Regions from separate parts of the Homo sapiens genome. Here regions 1, 2 and 3 are each linked to region 4. The links come from fine-mapping of genetic effects on gene expression. A gene starts in region 4. Each other region holds a variant in brackets. All regions are shown on one strand. Distances are between the middles of the regions. Region 1 overlaps LOC101927566 (a long non-coding RNA gene). Region 2 holds the start of LOC124902051 (a long non-coding RNA gene). Region 3 has its middle 59 kb from the start of ZNF596. Region 4 holds the start of ZNF596 (zinc finger protein 596).

Evidence for each region. PIP is the estimated chance that this variant, and not a neighbour inherited with it, causes the effect. A credible set is the group of variants that fine-mapping cannot tell apart.
Region 1: its variant is the best candidate, but not a certain one, in a credible set for the expression of ZNF596 in sun-exposed skin (GTEx, PIP 0.88).
Region 2: its variant is the best candidate, but not a certain one, in a credible set for the expression of ZNF596 in monocytes (BLUEPRINT, PIP 0.57).
Region 3: its variant is the best candidate, but not a certain one, in a credible set for the expression of ZNF596 in breast (GTEx, PIP 0.52).

What each region holds. Positions count from the first base shown.
Region 1 is chr8:267,484-272,603 of GRCh38, forward strand. The region is part of intron 1 of LOC101927566 (a long non-coding RNA gene); the gene reads right to left. Among named protein-coding and RNA genes, the nearest start is that of ZNF596, 38 kb to the left of the region's middle. The variant G/T (reference allele first, on the strand shown) is at 2,385.
Region 2 is chr8:203,835-208,954 of GRCh38, forward strand. It overlaps LOC124902051 (a long non-coding RNA gene), which reads right to left and starts at 1,446. Exons shown (of 2, transcript XR_007061161.1): 1 at 1-1,446. It also overlaps the pseudogene RPL23AP53. RefSeq lists silencers at 2,988-3,067, 3,192-3,414. The variant G/C (reference allele first, on the strand shown) is at 2,454.
Region 3 is chr8:289,339-294,458 of GRCh38, forward strand. No RefSeq gene overlaps it. Among named protein-coding and RNA genes, the nearest start is that of ZNF596, 59 kb to the left of the region's middle. RefSeq lists an enhancer at 2,295-2,414. The variant G/C (reference allele first, on the strand shown) is at 2,827.
Region 4 is chr8:230,118-235,237 of GRCh38, forward strand. It overlaps ZNF596 (zinc finger protein 596), which reads left to right and starts at 2,339. Exons shown (of 6, transcript NM_001042416.3): 1 at 2,339-2,577. It also overlaps the pseudogene RPL23AP53. RefSeq lists a silencer at 2,106-2,205 and an enhancer at 2,226-2,545.

The DNA of each region.
Region 1 (5,120 bases), 37 kb after region 4:
CATAACCTTTGGAATTCTTAATTTTTTCTATGTGCATGTATTACCATGTAATAAAAATTAATTTAAAAGACATTTAATAAGAGTATAAAGGCATGAAGGACTACGGTAAGGCATGAATAAATTATAGTGTGCTTGAAGTTTTCACCATAGGATGAAAGGACAAACAGAGAATTAGGAGTATTGTTTTCCACACCAAAATATCATGACTTGGCTGAAGAAATATATCTATCTGTATCTGAAATCAACATTAATGTTATCAAATAATTCAGACTTAGAGTTTTCAATAAATGTATAGAAATTGTTTTATTCAAAGACTAAGGGGGAAAGGGTGAGAAATTAAGTCTAGCAGTACAATTATAGAACCTCTGGTGTATTCTCATGGGAAAATTAATGTTTTAGGTAAAATGGAGACGACAGTAGTTACGACAAATACTTGAGAAAAGCCTATGAAATTACTGACTTTGGTAGTCCAGCCAAACATTTGCTTCAGGAAAAGCATCCAGAAATATAATGATTTAGGGATATCAAGGTATACTATATAAAGCATTGTTGTATATATTATTTCCTCTTTTCCCTTGGGAGGTAATATCTGAATTATTATCAGACTCCTAATGAGGAAACACTCTGAGAAGTGAGAAGCCTGCCTTGTGTCAGAGTGGGTAAATCAGAGAGACAAAGGCGTTAGGGCTTGAACTCAGGCCCTCTGACTTTGCAGGGTTCTATTGAAGTGGCCACCTTGCCTGAGGCTATGAGGCTGAAGGAGTGGGCAGAGGAATACACTGTGGTCATTCACACCTGAAATTATCATCTTACCAAGGAACCACCTTTCCCGATTAGGTGACCAATTCACTATTTATCCTTTTACTATTTCTTAGAAACCCCAAAGCCAATACATACGCTATTCCTTTGTAAATTATAGGGTCAATGAAGTTGAATTGATTGTTTCTGGCCCCTCTGATAAAGGTAAATTGAGTAAAGTGTAAACGTGAAACAGCATGGGTTAGGATACTTTTCAAGGATTTTGGTGCCAATTTCTGTTTTCCCCATGGCTACCCTCATATTATCTTTGCTTTTAGGCATTTTTTCCTTCAGATATATAGGTTTTATGCACAAATGTTAGTGAAACAGACTGTTAACTGTGAGGTACAATTTTTGTCCAGCAAATTTTAGTTTCCACATGAAATGTTTCATTGAATTTGGATAATTTGAAAAGAGGAATACATTATTTTATAAATTGTTAACTGTTTTAAATTTGGTTAGGGGAAGACAGTGTGGTGATTCCTCAAAGACCTAGAACCAGAAATACCATTTGACCCAGCAGTCCCATTACTGTGTCTATACTCAAAGGAATATAAAACATTCTATTATAAAGATACATGCACGTGTGTGTTCATTGCAGCACTATTCACAATAGCAAAGACATGGAATCAACCCAAATGCCCATCAATGATAGACTGGATAAAGAAAACGTGGTACATATACACCAGGGAATACTATGCAGCCATAAAAGGAATGTGATCATGTCCTTTGCAGGGATATGAATGGAGGCGGAAGCCATTATCCTCAGCAAACTAACACAGAAACAGAAGACCCAACACCACGCAGTCTCACTTACAAGTGTGAACTGAACAATGAGAACACATGGACACAGGGATGGAAACAACACACACTGGGACCTGTTGTGGGGGTGGAGCGGGGAGAGGGAGAGCACCAGGAAAAATAGCTAATGGATGCAGGGCTTAATACCTAAGTGATGGGTTGATAGGTGCAGCAAACCACCATGGCACACGTTTACCTGTGTAACAAACCTGCACATCTTATACATGTATCCCATAACTTAAAATAAAATAAAATAAAAATAAAATTCAGAAATAACCACCCTCCCCCAAGAAAAAAAGAAGGATGAGAAGAGTTAGAGGTTTGTTTCTGTGCCACCCTGTTCCAGAAAAGAGTTGAAACAGTTTACAATGAAGTATTTAATAACATAAAACCAAATGAAGATAGAAAATTATAGAGTAAAAATGGAATATCAAGACAGGAATATGAAGAGACAGGTAAGTGATGAGCATTGTCACAGATCTTATCAGAGGCTGAGCTCCTATGCAGAATCCATGAATAACTAGACCTAAACCCTATGCAGCTACCTGATAGATGTCATATGCTCAAAAAGGTGTTAGCAAGCAGTGGATAGCCGTTGAATCTGAGCCTGAATGTATGTTGTATAAAGACGATGTGTAAGGAGTAATGTGTTCCCTTATCCACATAACACCACCACTGAACAAAGAGCAAAAAGAAAGAGAGGGAGGGAGGGAAAGTATCTATCCTACATGTTGACAGCAAAGTTACATTGTTTGAATACCAATGTAAGGAGCTTTGGCACCACA[G/T]TTGCAGACTGCCTTGAGTTCATACATTCTCAACCTTAACAACAATGTAATTTTTGCAACTAGAGACTTTTTAAAAATTAGGGCAGACAACTATATTCAAAACAGTAGGCTCTGTCACTTCAAGATCTGCTTTGAGAAAGGCAGTGATAATGGAGAGAGTATTTGCTGAGGTGACTAAAAAATTGAACACAAACGGTTTTTTCTGTCAACTGAAATGACCACTATCATTTTGAACTTTCATAATTTTAGGAACACATAGTTGGTTTTCATTAAGCTGAGGATGGCTTTGACCACCTGGTAAAGACTACAATGTCACAGAGGTCAAAACCACGACAGACGCTTTAGATGTACACATAGTCATGTAAATTATAATGCTTCGTTGAAGTGAGGAGAAATCACACTTACATAGCTTAAAAATATCTCACTGGATTTTGCTCAAATTTGTATCAAATATTGTACTGAAGCGCTATTCAAGATCAGAGCCCCATGGATAAGCTCGGGGCTTATCAAGAAAAATATACACAGCTGCATTGATTTTCAGATACACAGAACTCTAGAGAACGGATGTGATCAAGCAAACAACCTAACATTTTCAAGGGGCTAAACCAAGGCCCAGAGTCGGGAGGGGACTTACCCAGACTCACAGGGAGCAGTGCCAAAGCTGGGCCAGACACACATCCCCCTGGCGCCAGCCAGCTCCCCGACATAGGACAGATCAGAGTAATACTTGAAAATTTACAATTCACTATGTAGGATTTGTGTTCCTGGAGAAGGAAGTCGGTTGGTGGGGGCAGGGCAGGGGGGCAAGTGCAATGTACAAGTGAATGCTGTGATCCCTAAATACCCGAGGAGATGAGGGAAACCACAACTGGTGACATCAGGGGAGTCAGAGACGGCACTGTGACAGGGCTTGAGTAAGGACGTGGAGCAGATCAGAGTTCCTGGACAGGACAGTGCGTGGGGTGAGCACCTGGGTAAATGGAAAAGGAGGAACCAGAGGCCTGGGGGAATTCATGATGGACTAGGTCACTTTGGGCCATATGGGCGAAGGGGATCAAACAATTAATTTTAAAAAAGAGACAGATTGTACGTCTCCTTGAGATTTAGCACCAGAGATATAGAAAGTGACAAGACACAGTTCGAGCCCTCCAGCCTCACCACACAGAGCAGACGACAAACCCTAAACTGATCACTACATGCAATGAGAGAAATGTCGCACTGGGGAACACAACAGGGCATGGAAGACCTGTGCAAACTGTTAAGAAAATGAGACCAATTCTTCCTGGGAAAGTGTGACAGGTTCTGAAGAGCACCAACCAAAGATCTGCAGTGGGGGCTCTGAGAGTGGAGTGAGGGGAGGGGCAGTGAGAAGCACCTGCCCCTGCACTGCTAAACAAATCCCACACCAGAGCCTGCAGGCTCCCCAGCTCCAGCTCTAGGCCTGTGTCCACTTCCTACCAAGGCTGTTTCCTCCCGCCCACCTCTGTCCCCACATTTTCACTCTGAAATCATGATACCAGTTTGCTGTTTTCAGAAACATCTGCAATTCCAAAGGAAAAAATCTAAAAGAATATCTAATGATGACGTTTCTCATTAAAATACCTTTTTGATGTTATTTGCCTTCTAGTGAAAATCATACCTAATCATTTTTGAATTAATTTTCAAAAATTTTTGGAATATCAAAAGAATATTACATTTTCTAAATTGGTCAGTTGGGTTAAACACAACAATGGAGACACACACAAAAGAAGCAATACCTGAGGCTTATAGTCAACAGTTACCCAATATGGACACTCAGAAATCGTTGCGTTACTTATTTTTAACCACATCCTATCTTCTTTAAATAGTGGTATCTGAGATTTGAGAAGGCAGTGAGTTGCAGTTCTTCGAGAGCACTGAATTCCTACAGATATATTCATTTTGTTTGTTTTCTCACTTACCTTTTTTATTCTTGTTCATCAAAGCCATGACATAACAGGTCCACAGATCAGGAAAACAGCTCATTACATAAAGGGGGAAATCAGATTCACACACTACCTCGACTTTAGCCCAAACCCAGATGGCAGAGTCTCCTCCAGGGTGGGAAAGTAGCCATAAGCATCCGTTTCAGTCACTCCACATGTGTATTCACACGACCTGCGGGGCGCCCCAGAGGCCAGGCGGCCGCTGGTTCTGGGGACGTTTTTCAGAAGAGCAAACGCACCGGATGGCAGGTTTTGGAAATGTTTCCCCTAAAGCAGACCCCAAAACCCAGCAGCGCTGAGCACTCAGGACCGTTTGTATCTGTGTTATTGCCCATGAGAGAATAGATGGCATGCAAAGACATTATTATTAAAGTTGGTAGTGCAAGAACACACAGCAAATTTATGTCTTGTAGTCTAGATAAAATATTACAGTCTCTGCTACAATTTCAGCAGGCTCACTGGGGCCTGTGACCCCAGCATCCTGGGAGCTCCACGTAGCCCACCTTAGCGCTGGGGTCCAAAGCCCTCATCCAACTCACACCTCGCACTCCTGCCACTCACAGGTGAGACTGAGCTGCTGGGAACATGGGGCCGTGCTGACTTTCCTTGTGCCTGCCCTGGCGTGAACACAGGACATCCTGCACGGAGCATGGGGAGGGGTGTGGTGGGTGTTCCTTGGCTTCCGGTTTCATGTCCCCAGTCATCACACCCTCCTGAGCAGGTACTTCCTCAGTGAGTGGGATGCTCCATCTGTAGTGAGAACCATTGTGAT
Region 2 (5,120 bases), 26 kb before region 4:
TTTCTAAAACAGGGTGTGGCAAACTACCATGCATGGACCATGTCTGACACAGTCTGCGTTTGTAAGTAAAGTTGTAATAGGACACAGCCAATACATGTGTTACATAATGTCTCTGGCTACTTTCATGGTATAATGGAAGAGCTGAGTCATTGAGAGAGAGACCATATGGCTTGGAAAACTTAAAATATTTAACATTTAGCCTCCTGCAGAAAATACTTGCTGACTCTTGTTTGAAAAGATCTCTGTTTAGAATGCTACCTATTGCGTTCTGGATAGAATCACAACTCTTTACCACAATCGACACAGCTTCAGCCCTGCTTCTATATCCAGCCTCATCTATTTCTGCTCCTCCTCCTTATTTTCCTTCTGGCCATGCTGATGGATTGTCAGCTTCCCAGATGTGTGAGAATCTCTCCTCCCTTCCTAACATTCTCATGCTCTCCCTCTGCCTCTCAAGAACTTCCTGCCCCATCTCTCATGACAAATCCTTTCTACATTCTTTAAGATGCAGCCCTTTTGCTCCTTCCTTAAGGATGTCTTGTCTGGCTCTATTTTGGGTGACGTGCTCCTTCTGCATCTCCCAGAGCCAGCCTGTGTGTGTCAGCTACAACATTTCTTTGCATCTCTGTGTCATATATTACCAAATCTGCCTAAGCTTGCATGAGTCACTGCATGACAACTTCAGACTCCACCAGCATTGTCCCCACTAACCACAAGGCTTAGACATTCGTCCAGTATGCTCGGGGTTGTGGGGTGGTAGCAGTAACCAGCTGGTGACCATCATTTCTTACATCAGAATCAAATCTGTAGATCTCTGCCATTCATAAGTATTTGGAGTTTAAAATTAGCATAAAGATTTTCCTTAAAATAAGAAGAAATGCCTTGAGTAGGCTTTTGGAACATAGGATGTTTCCACTGGTTCATTTCTGTGTTCAATATTCCCACATGAATCTAAACACGACTCTGCTCTTAGTAGCTATGTGACCCTGGGAAAGTCACTCAATCTCCCTCAGCTAAATTTTGTTGTGTGAGTAATGAGGAGAGAGTTGTGATTTGTATTTAGTGAATAATAACAAAAGGCATTTAGCTTTCTGGAACCTGGTATGTAGTAGAACCTCATGAAATACTAGCTCTGTTGATAAAACTAGACTGAAAGAAGCTTTCAAAGTCAACAACAGTTTGAGGCAGTGAAGGACGTAGAGGAGAAGCTGCTGCTGCAGGGGCCTGTAGCTCCTGGAAGCCCGTTTTGTCCATGATTTAGCAGGAATGCATTACCCTTCCATGACGAGGCACAGCCCACAGAAACCAAGGCCATTCTTTGAAGAAAAACATGTCTTAATAGCGTTTACATTACGTAACAGTGTAATACAAATAATAATTTATTATTAGTAATAATGTGAAATTATTTACAGTACCGTAACCCTAACTCTCACCCCTAATCCTAACCCTAACCCTAACCCCTAACCCTAATCCTAACCCAAACCCTAACCCTAACCCAACCCTAACCATAACCCAACCCTAACCCTAACCCTAGCCCCTAACCCAACCCTAACCCAAACCTAACCCTAGCCCCTAAACCTAAACCTAACTCCTAACCCCTAACTCCTAACCCTAACCCTAACCCTAACCCTAACCCCTAACCCTAACCCCTAACCCCTATCCCTAACCCCTAACCCCTAACCCCAACCCCAACCCTAAACCCAACCCCAACCCCAACCCGACCCTGACCCCGACCCCTAACCCTAAACCCTAACCCCTAACCCTAACCCTACCCCTAGCCCGAACCCGAACCCGAACCCTAACCCTAACCCCTAACCCTAACCCCTAACCCTAACCCTTAACCCTAACCCTACCCCAACCCCAACCCTAACCCCTAACCCCTAACCCTCACCCTAACCCTAAACCACATGAGCAATGTGGGTATTATATTTTGGGTGTCATGTGTGCATTAGGAATGCTGCATTTGTGTTCCGACACTGCAGTTGGCCCCTGCAATGCAGCCCCTCGCCTTGACTTGGGAGAATCTCGGTGCGCAGGATTCAGAGGGGCTTTTGGTTTCCCGTTTTCCACACTGAACCGTTCTAACTGGTCTCTGACCTTGATTATTAACGGCTGCAACCGGGAAAGATTTTATTCACCGTCGATGCGGCCCCGAGTTGTCCCAAAGCCAGGCAGTGCCCCCAACGTCTGTGCTTAGGAGAATGCTGCTCCACCTTTACGGTGTCCCCCAGGTCTGTGCTAAGCAGAACGCAGCTCCGCCCTCGCGGTGCCCTCAGCCCGCCCGCCCGGGTCTGACCTGAGGAGAACTCTGCTCCGCCTTCGCAGTACCACTGAAATCTGTGCAGATGAGAACGCAGCTCCGCCCTCGCGATGCTCTCCGCGTCTGTGCTGAGGAGAACCCAACTCCGCTCTCGCAAAGGCACGGCGCGCCGGCGCTGGCGCAGAGAGGCGCG[G/C]CGCGCCGGCGCAGGAGCTGTTCGGGAGACGCGGCGCAGGGCATAGACGCACGCCTCCGCGTCCCCGGAGGGGAGGGGTCGCTGGGCGGGCGGGAGTGAGGCGCGGCGCAGGCGCAGGCGCAGAGACGCACGTCGCTGGGCTCAGGATGGCGGGGCGTGTTGCAGGTGTACAGTTGCACGCCGCCGGGCGGGGAGCGCGGGAATGGCGAGGTGCAGGCGCAGAGACACACGTCCCCGGCGGCGCAGCGCACAGACGGGTGGAACCTGAGTAATCTGAAAAGCCCGGTTCGGGTGCCCCCTGCTTGTACCCGGGCACTACAGGACCTGCTTGCCCACGGTGCTGTGCCATTGCGCCCCCTGCTGGCAACTAGGGCAACTTCAGGGCCCTCTTCCTTACAGTGGTGTCCAGCGCCTCCTGCTGGCGACGGGGCACGGCAGGGCTCTCTTGCTCGCAGTATACTGGCGGCACGCCGCCTGCTGGCAGCTAGGGACATTGCAGGGCCCTCTTGCTCACATTGTAGTGGCAGCACACCCGCCTGCTGGCAGCTGGGGACACTGCCGGGCCCTCTTGCTCCAAGTGTAGTGGCGGCTGCTCCCCTGCTGGCAGCTGGGGACACTGCCGGGCCCTCTTGCTTGCAGTGTAGTCGGGGCACGCCCTCTTCTGTCCGCTGGGGGCACTACAGGATCCTCTTGCTCAGTGTAGTGGCAGCACGCCCCCTGCTGGCAACCAGGGCACTGCACGGTCCTCTTGTTCATGGTGTGGTGCCCCTACGCCACCTCCTGGCAGCTAAGGACACTGCAGGGCCCTCTTGCTCACAGTGTAGTCGTTGTTCGCCCCCTGCTGGCAGCTAGGGACACTGCCGGGCCCTCTTGCTGACACTGTCGTGGCTGCACGCCACATGCAGGCAGATGGGGACTAAGCAGGGCCCTCTTGCTCCCGGTGTGACGGCTGGCGTCCCCTACTGGCCGCCTCCTGCACCACTTAAAGTCAGAGCGCCAGTTATTAATCCCCATCAGTTCTGTAAATGAAAACTGAAAAGGAGCTATTACTGGGGAGAGCTGATGTCCCAGTTATTAACTTGGAAGAAAGATTTTCACCAAGAGGCAGTACAAAGATGGAAGATAACTTCATTGAAAAGAAATACAGTGTAAAGAGCTTATTGTAGGAAAATAGGGAGGAGTGGGTTCATAGTGCATGAAAACAGCCTAAGAGTCCTGTGCAGGGAATTTTATTTTGGACTTCTTCACATTCCTGCCTCTGTCTCAAGTCTATGCTTGTTTTCCTTGGTTTTCCTGCTACTGCCTTAGGTCCCTGACTTGCCCCACTTAGGCTTGTGGGACCTCCTGTTGATTGAGGTACACGTGGGGTGATGAATCTGAATCCACTCTGGCACCAACCTCCTTCCCGCCATCCCAGGCAGGCTGACAGCAGTCACGTTTGTATCTACTGCACCTGCCTCTTTTGAATGTCTTTCTCTGCCCTAATCTGTACTTATGGTGCCAGGTTTCTCTTAGGAATGTCCCCTTTGTCCTTCTTATCAGCATGTAGCTAGCAATATTCTGACATTTTTATTGCAGTGAATGATGATTGGGGCATCTTAAGAGAAGTTCTAGGGTGTTTCTGTGTAGGTACCTCTTCTCCCTCCTAAGCACAATTGACAAGTGCCCATCCACTCCAGCACTGGAGATGCTACTAATATGTGCATTTTTGGTGGTCCCTCCAGGTGAGCCTTCACAGACTTTCCCTTTTCCAGGAGCTCCCCCTCCTGTTCACGTCTAGCTAGCTATCTACTCTAACAGAGCCCACTATCCTGTGTCTTTCCCAAAAATAGTGAGGGAATGATTAATTGGAAACCATAAGAAATCATATGCATGTAGATGAAAACTTTACAACTTACACAAATAACCACTCAAAATCATCCTTACACTAAAAATGCAAAACTATACAATTTCTAGAAGAAACTATAGAAGAAAAGCTATGTGCCTTTGCGTTTGGTGATGAATTTTAACAAATGACACAGAAGGTTGATATACACAGAAGAAATGACAATGTGGATTTCTTAATATTTACAGTTTATACTCTGGAAGAGACCTTGTTAAGAGAACCAAAAGACAAGCCACATATTGAAGAAAATATTTGCAAAATACAGATCTGAGAATTTGTATTCAAAATACATAAAAAATTGTTAAAACTAAACAATAAGTTAAACAGCCCAATTAAAAATGCACACAGATCTGAACAGACGCCTCACCAAAGAAGATCTACAGATGGCAAGTACACTTACAAAAAGATGCTCAACATACTAGAGAACTGAAAACCACAAAAAGATAGCACAGCTGGTCTATATCTCTTAGAACTGCTAAACTCTTTAACAAATGACAAATTGCTGGAGGAAAAACAAGAACTCTTTTCATTGCCGGTGGAACACAGTGTATAAGACCAAAATATGCCACCCCAAAATATAATGGTAGGAAACCAGAATATGCAACCCCAAAATATGTCCCTTTGGCTTAAGAATTATTCCAAGCTAATTATTTTGAAAAAAAAAAATGCTAACAAAGGAAGTTGTGAAAACAGAGAAGTTACACTTGTGTAAGGAAAATTTACATCTATAAAGGAAATCACCATTTAAAAGCTACCTCTCTCGACACCAAGAAGAGAAGGAT
Region 3 (5,120 bases), 59 kb after region 4:
CCCGACAGCGTCCTCTTCTCAGGAGGAGAAACCACCACATGATGTGCAGACACGGAGACATATTTCCCTCAAGTGCGTACAACAGAGGTTGGAGCACTAAAGCCCTAACGTTAGAGCCAGAGGTATTAAAAAGAGAATGCAAGGCCAAAGCCTTAATAGTATGCTTTTTCATCTAGTGCTAAACAAAGGAGAATATAGTTCAGTGTGAGAGAAACTTTGAAGCCAATAAAATAGCAGGAAAAATGGAAAATAAGAGGAGGACCAGGTAATTTAGGATATATTTTAAGTTTTACAGCAGAAACAGACACAAAAACCTGAGAAAGACAAGTGCAAATTTAAATGAGAAAATGAAAGCACATTGTTTTCAGGATACCTAAGATAATGACACAAGAATGAAAATGAGTTCATTTCTACAATTACTTGAATCGACCAAATGGGCGTTAACGTCTGTGTATTATACATCTTGCCCCCTCTGAAGTTCTGTCCTCATTTCTCCTCCCTCTTTCAGAGTCTCCATTATTTTCCTCTAGAGATTGGCATTCAAGGCACACGGCTCTGAATCAGCAGTTGCTGTAATTAGGGTGTATCCATGGTAATGATAACGAGGGCTAATACTAATCCCTCCTTCTTCCCTCTTCCTTTCCTTTTCTGACTCTTGTCCCCAGGGTCCCCATCCCACTCATGTGTGCACACACACACGTGCACACAAACACACACACAGGTGCACACAAGCACTCCTAGGACATCCACAAGAGGATGGGCACCCATGCAGAGCGGCCTTGCCACCCCCAGAGCAGATGGCCAGCCACACGTCAACATCAGAAAGGCTCGTATCCTTCTGAAATGGAGGACTCCCTGTTGTGAACCTAATAGAATATCGACATGTGGACACCACAGTTCAGCCAGATTCTCTCGAAAGTGTCTCTGCTGATAGAGGTCCACAATGTCATACTCATGTTTAGAAGCCTGAGATATTTGGACTCTGCAATCAGCTGAATTGTGTCCTGCCAAAGCCCTATGTTGAAGCCCTAACCCTTAATGTGGCTGTCTTTGGAAATGGGGTCTTCAAACAGGTGATGAAGGTTAGGTGAGACCACAAGGGAGGGTCCTGAGCCAATGGGAGTGATGTCCCCAGGAGAAGGCGAAGGGATGTCAGGGATGCGCGTGTAGAGGGAGGACCACGTGAGGGCTTGGGAGGACGTCAGGGATGCGCGTGTAGAGGGAAGACCACGTGAGGGCTCGGGAGGACATCATGGATGTGCGTGTAGAGGGAGGACTACGTGAGAGCACGGGAGGACATCAGGGATACAAATGCAGGGGGAGGACCACGTGAGGACATAGGAGGATGTCAGGGATGTGAGTGCAGAGAGAGGACCACGTGAGGGCACATGAGGATGTCAGGGATGTGAGTGTAGAGAGAGGACCACGTGAGGGCACAGGAGGACGTCAGGATGTGAGTGCAGAGAGAGGACCACGTGAGGGCACATGAGGATGTCAGGGATGTGAGTGTAGAGAGAGGACCACGTGAGGGCATGGGAGGACGTCATGGATGCAAGTGCAGGGGGAAGACCACGTGAGGGCATGGGAGGACGTCAGGGATGTGAGTGCGGAGGGAGGACCACGTGAGGGCTCGGGAGGACGTCAGGGATGTGAGTGCAGAGGGAGGACCACGTGAGGGCACGGGAGGACGTCAGGGATGTGAGTGCAGGGGGAGGACCATGTGAGGACATAGGAGGATGTCCGGGCTTCGAGTGCAGAGAGAGGAACGTGTGAGGACATGGGAGGATGTCAGATATGCGTGTGCAGAGGGAGGACCACATGAGAACATGGGAGAAGATGTCGTCTGCAAGCCAGGGAGAGGCCTCAGGAGGACCAGCCCTGCCACACCTTGCTCTGGGACTGCCACCCGCCAGTACCCTAGGAGAACACATTCCTGTTGGTGAAGCTGCCAAGGCCGTGCTGCAGCACCAGGGGCCTCTGGCTGATAGACTGCAGAGCAGCGATGCCAGTGGTAGCCTCCAAGTAAACTCTCTAAAGGGATTTTGTTTTCTATCCTCATTTTTCCTGCCTTATCTTTCAAGAGACTTCGTTTACCTTCACTTGTGTGGGTTCGTTTCTAAATACAGAGAAGGAATGCAGGCAAAGGAGTACCAAGCCAAGCCATCTTTTTAAAAGATAAACAGGGCACATTTTTCTTCCTTCCTGAGCAACTCATACACCAAATATGTACAGAACACCTGTAAATGGTAGAGGATTCAGATATTTTGAAAGCACAAAACCTACTCTCGAAGAACACACAACTGCTGAGAGGTAACAAAGTTTTGGCCGCTGTAGCTGCTAAAAATAGAGTTGTCATATCCTAAAACTAAAAATAAAGAAATACATCACTGATCAAACACGCTTGATGGCCTTCATTTGCATACGGTCGTGACAAGCCCGGTGGGAGGTGTAAGAATACTTGGGTGTTACCCTGCCCCCGAGGAGCTCATGAAAGCGGTGTTCACAGCATGCTGCAGTTGCTCACATCGTAGTTCATAAGGCATTTTCTCACATGCCACCTAAACTCTTCTGCGGGGCAGCTGGGGCAGGCACCGCCTTTCTACTTCTCAGGTGTGAAAACTGAGGGTCTCAAAGAGGCAAGCACTTGCCAAAGTCACGCAGCAAGCAAGGACAAATGAGAGGGAGGCGTCTCCAACCAGGCGCAGGCTGGCAGATGTGGGCCCGTGAGCACCACTTGCCCTCAGGTCTGTGGTAGGGGTCAGATGAGTGACAGCCACAGGAGAGGCCATCCTCTTGGGGTGGAGGAGAGAGGCCACTCTCCTCTGG[G/C]ATGGTCTTGAAAGATGTCTCTGTACAGGGTGGGCAGAGAGGAGAGGGAGACCTTCTCAGAGCAGGGAGGTGCACGCTGTCACCAGGAGCTGGCCAAGAGGCTCACCAGAGCTGTGGTGGAGGCCGTGCAGACTGTGTGGCGGGGCTGGAACCTGGTTTCATAGAAACAACAGGGAGAAAACAGAGTTGTGAGCTGGAGAGGTGCATGGCCAGATGAGCCACACAGGTGGGTGGTGGGACCAAGGCCACAGTGGTCAGGAAATGCTGTGAGGGGACAGTGAGGAAAGAGGATGTCCCAGGGCCATTCATGCTTGTGACCACAAAGAAGAGATGGCTGGGCCAGGCTCCCCCTTAGCAGGTCTGGTAGCAGTTATGCAGGTGCGATCATCAGTTGATTGAAGAGCTCTCGGGTGAAAAGACACAGAATAGGTCCCATGTCATCGATGCCAGGGTGGGTTTTTATCTCAAAGAAGGCCCGTGCCCTACAGCTGGGAAATGCCCTTCCCTTCACTGCTGCTTCTGCATTTAAAAGTCCCATCAGTGCTAATGGAACTCACAAATGCCTCACACAGGGGAAAACACACTGCGTGAATAGGGATAGCAATTTATAGGACTGACTGAACTTAAAGACATTGAGATTACATCCCGCAGAAAGAGGCTGGCATACAGTCCAATAACTGGCCTAGGTAGGTGGCATTCTGAATGAACGTCAGAAATAGCCTGTATTTTTGCCTCAGTCAGCCTCTGCATATTCTTTTTCTTAAAAGCTTAAAGCAAACAGAAGGACATACTCAGTCCTAAAGGTTCTTTGTGGCCCAAGATGTTCTGGCATGAGAACTGCCCTATGCCAGGAGGGAAATGTTCCAGGAAAGGAGGTGTTGGTGGTTTTCAGCCACAGGAACCACCTCCTCGTGACACCCAATCCTGGGGAATTAATTCTGTGACCCCAGAATAAGTTTCCAAGGACAGGGATGTCACTTGGCTAAGGCATACCAATTCTCCAACTGTGAACACATCTCCGCTTTTCCAACCTCAGCCAAAGGAGGCTGCAGCTCTGGTCAGGCTCTAACACGTGCATGGCTGTCATGGATGCCCATGTGTGCCTGGGCAATAGACGAGGGTGTGCCTTGCTGACCCTTTCTGTGGTGCCCTGGCTAGCCCAACACCATTGTGCAGAGGAGGGTGCTGAGGCCTCTGGAAGTTACTGCAAGGTCACCAGCCCTTGCCCCTGGAGGAATCCGTGTGGCCCCAGCTCTCAATCTGCACACGTCATATCTCCTCCTTAGGGGAGGTTTCCCACCCCCTCTGAACACAGTGAAAAGTGAGTGTGCTTGAAAGCACCGACCTCAGTCCATGTTCCCTGATAGACACGGCCACATCTGTCAATCTAACCTTTGGGCATAGCACCTGCAAGAAACCAAGGCCCAGGCTGCAAAGAAAGGACGCGACAGAGCCTGGACACCGCTGCCTTCATGGGAGCTTGCTTGTGCGGGTGATACTGATGAGGCTCCTCGCGTCCTGTGGGTGAAGCTGGAAGTCCCAGGCTTTGCCATCTCTGGTTCCCCACTTCCCCAGTTTCGACGCTCTCCTCTCTCCCCACCCCTGCAAACACATCCTATGATCTAATTTAGCATTTTTCAATTTATTCACAAAATCATTTATTGCTCACGAAGGGATCAAGATCCATGCTCACAAGCATTATTCCGGTTTACACAGCATCTTCTCGCTTCTGTGACAGATTCACTTAGGATGGTACACCTTCTCAGATTGTGTTTCCTTCTCATACAATGTCCAAACACCACTTCTCTATCTGGTAAGCTCCTAGTCATACTTCAAAGCCCAATCCAAATGCTATCAACTCAACCTTCCACTACCCAACCCTGCAAGCAGAGCTGCTGTTCCCACAGCTGTTTGCTGTATAACTGATTATATTTGTATTTTTGTATTATATTTGTATATTCCAGATATTTGCTCACATCTTTCTCTCGCATTAGGTAGTGTTGCATGCCACAGCACCAGCACCAAGTGTGGCTCGTAATGTGGTTGCTCTTTATCCAAGGAAAGAGGCATGAGAGAGGCACAACACTAATGAGAGAAGCATTTTCAGGGGACTGTGTAGTAAAACCTAAGTACAGCTGTCCTAGGGAACAAGCCAAGGGAATCTGCCCTCCCCTCCCTCACTTCCAAACAGAAGTGGCAACTGTAGGTGCACCCCTTCCTTTTCTTCATAAGGGCCCTTGGTTTTTCTTTGGAAGTCATTCCTCCCTGACAGTCTGAGCATTAATTTGGATGGG
Region 4 (5,120 bases):
ACTTGAGATCAGGAGTTGAAGACCAGCTTGGGCAAATAGCAAGACCCTTATGTCTACAAAAAATATATATATATATTAGATGGCATGCTTGCACATACCTGTAGTCCCAGCTACCCAGGAGGCTGAAGCGGGAGGATTGCTTGAGCCCAGGAGTTCGAGGCTGCAATGAGCCAGCCATAATCGCACCACTGCACTCCAGCCTGGGCGACAGAGTGAGACCCTGTCTCTCTCTCTCTGTCACACACACACACACGTTAAATTTGTTGGATTATATATTTCGGGGGTTGAGCACTTTTCGTTATAAAATATTTATGATTGTGGGAACAAGTTAATAAAGACATGAAAGTTATTTAAATGTCCCAGAACTTTAAGAACAAAAAGCATTCTTAGTTTAAAAATAAGTTTTACTTTAAAGGTAACAGTACACACATAAATTGTTGTTAAAATCGACAGTAACAAAGAGAAGTAACAATACTAATAGCCTGTCACAAACTGATTCTTAATAACCTATATAAACAAACATTAAGCCCGGGCGCCGGGTGGCTCATGCCTGTTATCCCAGCACTTTGGGAAGCCGAGGCAGGCAGATCACTTGAGGCCAGGAGTTCCAGACCAGCCTGACCAACATGGTGAAGCCCAGTCTCTACCAAAAACACAAAAAATTAGCCGGGTATATTGGCACGCACCTGTAATCCCAGCTACTTGGGAGACTGAGGCAGGAGAATCCTTGAACCCAGGAAGCAGAGGTCGCAGTGAGGCGAGACCATGCCATTGTGACAGGAGAGAAACTCTGTCTCAAAAAAAAATTATATGTTTACAACAGGTGCATTTCTCCTCTTGCTTTCTGAGGACGCCCTGCTATGTAGCTGAGTAGTCACTAATAAACTATCTTAACTTCACTATACTCTGTGACTTGCCAAAAGGTCTTTCCCATGTGAAATCCAAAAACCTGTTCTTGGGGTCTAGGACAAGACCCATTTTATAATGACAAAACTATACAAATTCTAGAGGGAAACATAGAAAGAAAGCTATGTGACCTTGCGTTTGGCCATGAGTTTTAACACGACACTATCAGAGGCATTTGAACCCCTCCTCTATATGAACTCCAGGGTGGTTTATGTTCCATTGGCTAAGAGAAAGTTTTCTTCAAAAATGTGACATGATTTGAGGTCAAACATTAATATCAAGTAAACTCAAAAGATTGAGAAGCTAGCATTAGTTCTGGGAAAACCAGAAGTGTGCCTTTTTTGGAAATAATCATTGGTAGCACAAACTTAAGAATCTCCAAAGGAAATAAAAATGAGTTATTAACTTACAGTTTTCACCAATTAAGATATAAATGAAGCTAACGAAATCCGGAAATACAATTTCACTGTTTTTAATGTTCATTAAAAAAAAATCCTTATCAAATAGCCCCAGTAAGTCACCAATTAAGTCTTTACTACTTAAAAGCAAAATCCACCTATGTCCTGAACAGTATCCACTTTACGAGCCTCATTATATGTACGAGATAAAATTCAGAAATAAATAAATATACATGTATACGTATACAAATATATTTCAAATTAAAAAATACTTTTAGATAGTGGTATGTATTACATTTAGAAATTAATAACGAAGTAAATTATGGGATGTCATCCACGCCTGTCCCAAAGGTACCGAATTTATAAATCATCTCAGGTGCGGAGCAGGACAGGTTGAAAATAGGAATGACATGAACCCGCGCGGAACAGCTGCCGGCGCGGTGTCCAGGGCGGCACCCCGCCCGGTCCCGGCCCCTCCAGCCCTGGGCCCGACCCCTACTACGCCTCTGCCTCGACGCGAACGCGGAGCCCGAGCGCGCGTCACGCCGTGTGGGGCCGAAGAGGCTGCTACCCAGAGGCGGAGTGCGGGCTCGCGAGGGTCCCCACCCGACTCTCGCTCCCGCCAGCACCTACGGACTCGCGTCCCCGCCGCGCGCCGACTCGGGAGCAGCACCGCCCCCGGCACAGGAGCCTCACGCGCCTCTTACCTAACAGGAAGTTGGGTGGAAGCAGCGCGGACCCACGGCACACCGAACGCACTCCAACAGAACCCGACGCAGACACGCGCTTTCAACCGGCGGAGACACTGGCAGGGCCAGAAACGCGCGCAGCGGGGGCGGGAGGTCGGTAAGCTCCCCGCCCCTGCCCGAGACCCCGCCCCGGCCCGGCCCCGCCTTTTTCTCTGCCTCCCCTCCCTGCACGTACGGGCCCCGCCCCTCGCGCGACGTTTTTTGTTGACCCGGAAACGGATTCTCCGGAGCCGAGGTCCGCTCGGGTGAGTGCCCTCCGCTTTTTGTGGCCAAACCCAGCCACGCAGTTCCCTTCCTGCGGCGTCCTCCACACCCGGGGTCTGCTGGTCTCCGCGGATGTCACAGGCTCGGCAACCGCCCTCCTGTCGGCGGGGAGTCCCGCGACGCCCGGAAATGCTCCGAAGCCTGTCGCCCAGCTGCCAGATCTGCGTCTGTGTCCGGTTCCGTCACTGAGGTCGCCCCTGTCCGGCCCTTCCACCCTAGTTCTCTTCACCGTCCGCCCATCCTATCGCGCGCGGCCTCAGGTCCCGATTCGGCATGTGGCTTGTCTTCCATCGTCCCCACCCTCGCCCCTCTTGGCCCCTCAGGGCAGCCCTGGGATTCGGCAGACGCCAGTCCTCCCTGAGATGCTTCCCCATCCTTCCCTCCGCCAGGCCCTACGTCTCCGCAAACCCCACGCTTCGGGGTGGCCGCCTCAGACAGGACCCTGAGTCCGAGACTGGGGTAGGGGACCTGCCCGATCCTGTAACAACCCTCGTGCTTCTGCACAATCGCCTCCCACTAGCGGTGACTGTTGGGTGTTTACCTTCCCGGTGTCCCACTGAGAAGCGGGCTCTTCCTTGGCAGGGGCTTCTTCATTGCCTCGCTGTGGATGTCGAGGTGGGGCAGGAGAGTGAGGAGAAAACAGAGGAGGGAGGTAGAGCCAACGAGCGAGAAAAGGGGAGGGAAGTTTAGATGGGAAGTGGATGGGTCTGAGGAATTTGAACAAACACCGACAATGAAGGAGAGTGACCTGAGCAAGTAGTAGTGGGGTAAATGGAAATAGACAAAATGGGAATCAGCAGAGATATGGAGGACAGAATACAATGAGGAGGCCTTGACCGTCAGTAGCAGAGAGGGCAGCAGAAGCCTAATTCCCAAATTCTTTAGATGGTTTTCTGATTTCCAAATTAGTTTCCCTTTTAAATTTATTGTGTCAGGTTCAGCTTATGAGGCCTCAATACTTTTCAGTCTTAATTGTATATTGAAAATACTTTTTGTTTACTAAATGCTTTTTACATTAATTCAGTGTGCACTTCGTAAGGATAATGATGATTTGAGTTAGTTTAGTATTCAACAGCTTCCTCTATTCCTTTATATGATCTCTGTATTTAATGGCTGTGGCATAAAGTTTCCAACTAAGTTTAAGTATCAAGTTTTCTTTGTGCTGTTTTCTGCAAATATTGAAGGATGACCTGGATTGTCCTAGAACTTTGTTCCAACAGATTACATGTGTTCATAATGAATAGACTGCTCAAAGATATTTCCAAAGCTCACCTTTTATGTTTTTCAGTTCCAATAATTACATCTTTTTAAGGTTTATATTTTTTGATGACTTAATGTGATGTTCTGGAGAAGACAAATGCTTTTAATCAATATGATTAAAACCGTGAAAGACAAATCGCTGTTACTTAAGAGTGTGACATATGATCTGAAATCTTTAGGGGGCAGGGATGTTAAGGGAAAACTGCCACTATCGTATTAAGGTCATGCCATTCCTGTGAAGCTGGTGCTTGTTACTCTCTACTGGCTTCTGTTCACCTTTCCACCGGCCCCAAGACACACACATAGTGACACAAGGCAGTGGACAGGGAAAGAGCAAGACTTTATAAAGTAAGCACACAACAAAGGTATCTTTCTAATGAGGAGGAGGTGTTGGTTCTGGGAAGGAAGCTTGGGATTTGGGTATTCAGGATCCAGAAGTGAGAGAGCCTGGGAAGTTCAGGAACCAGAGAAAGAAAAAGCCTTGCCCATTCTCACCCATGACACTGTGCTCAGCAGGTACTAGCAGACTTCAGGCTCTGTGACTAAAAGGGGTCAGACCAGTTGATATACCCACAGCTGCCATGTAAGGATGTGTGTGGACTTCACTAGGGAAGAACGGTGTTATGAAAGAAGGGGCAGAAAAACTCACCTGTTGGTCTGCATGTAGAGGTTTATTGTCCTGAATTCCTGGAGGTTCAGTGAAAAGCAGAAGATTGTCTTTTACACATGTTGAGTTATGCCCCCATATATGTGGTTGTGGTAAAGAAAGAGGGTGTGTTGATGAGAGGTCCTGAAATGCATTTTCCTAATACTCAGCAGGGGCTTCTCAAGAAGGATCTTCCCTAAGAAAGAAGCTCAGAGAACAAAAATGGAAAAGGATTAGATATGGCACTTTCACTGGAAAAAGTCATGTTATTCATTGATTGTTTTGTCATCTCCCGCCTTAAGTGTTGTTTTTAGGATGTGGTAATCTCTGACCCTGCCTAACACATTTCCCAACTCACCCATAGCCTTCCCTTAACGTCCTCCCATCTTCACGCTATCACACTGTGACCCAGTGAATTCGAACTTGTGAAGTTCCATTCGGGGGATCATATGGGAAGGGCTTCACACCCAGACATAGATTATAGATGGGAAGTGGGCCACATGGTGTCAGTGAGGCAAGTATGGGTCGTTTAGGGACAATGCACTGTCAGATCTTTGTTGACCATGATTAGAGAAACTGTGCATATTAGTAGTGAATTAATGTCAGGAATATCTGACAAATCCTGGAAAAGAAGATTGATGAGAGGAAATGTGTTCTGCCCAACTGTATAATGCATTTGAAGCTTAAAACAATGAATCAGTATTGATCTGGCCACAAAATATTAATGATTTGAATTAAAAAGAAAAGTTTAGAAAATGATAGCTTTGACAAATTAAGGTAGCATTTCATCCACACGATGGAGTGTGTTTTATTCAGTAATTGATTTAAAAATGGAATCAACCTAAGTGTCTAACAGGAGGGAGTTTTATAAATTGTTCACAGAACATCTGTTCCAAG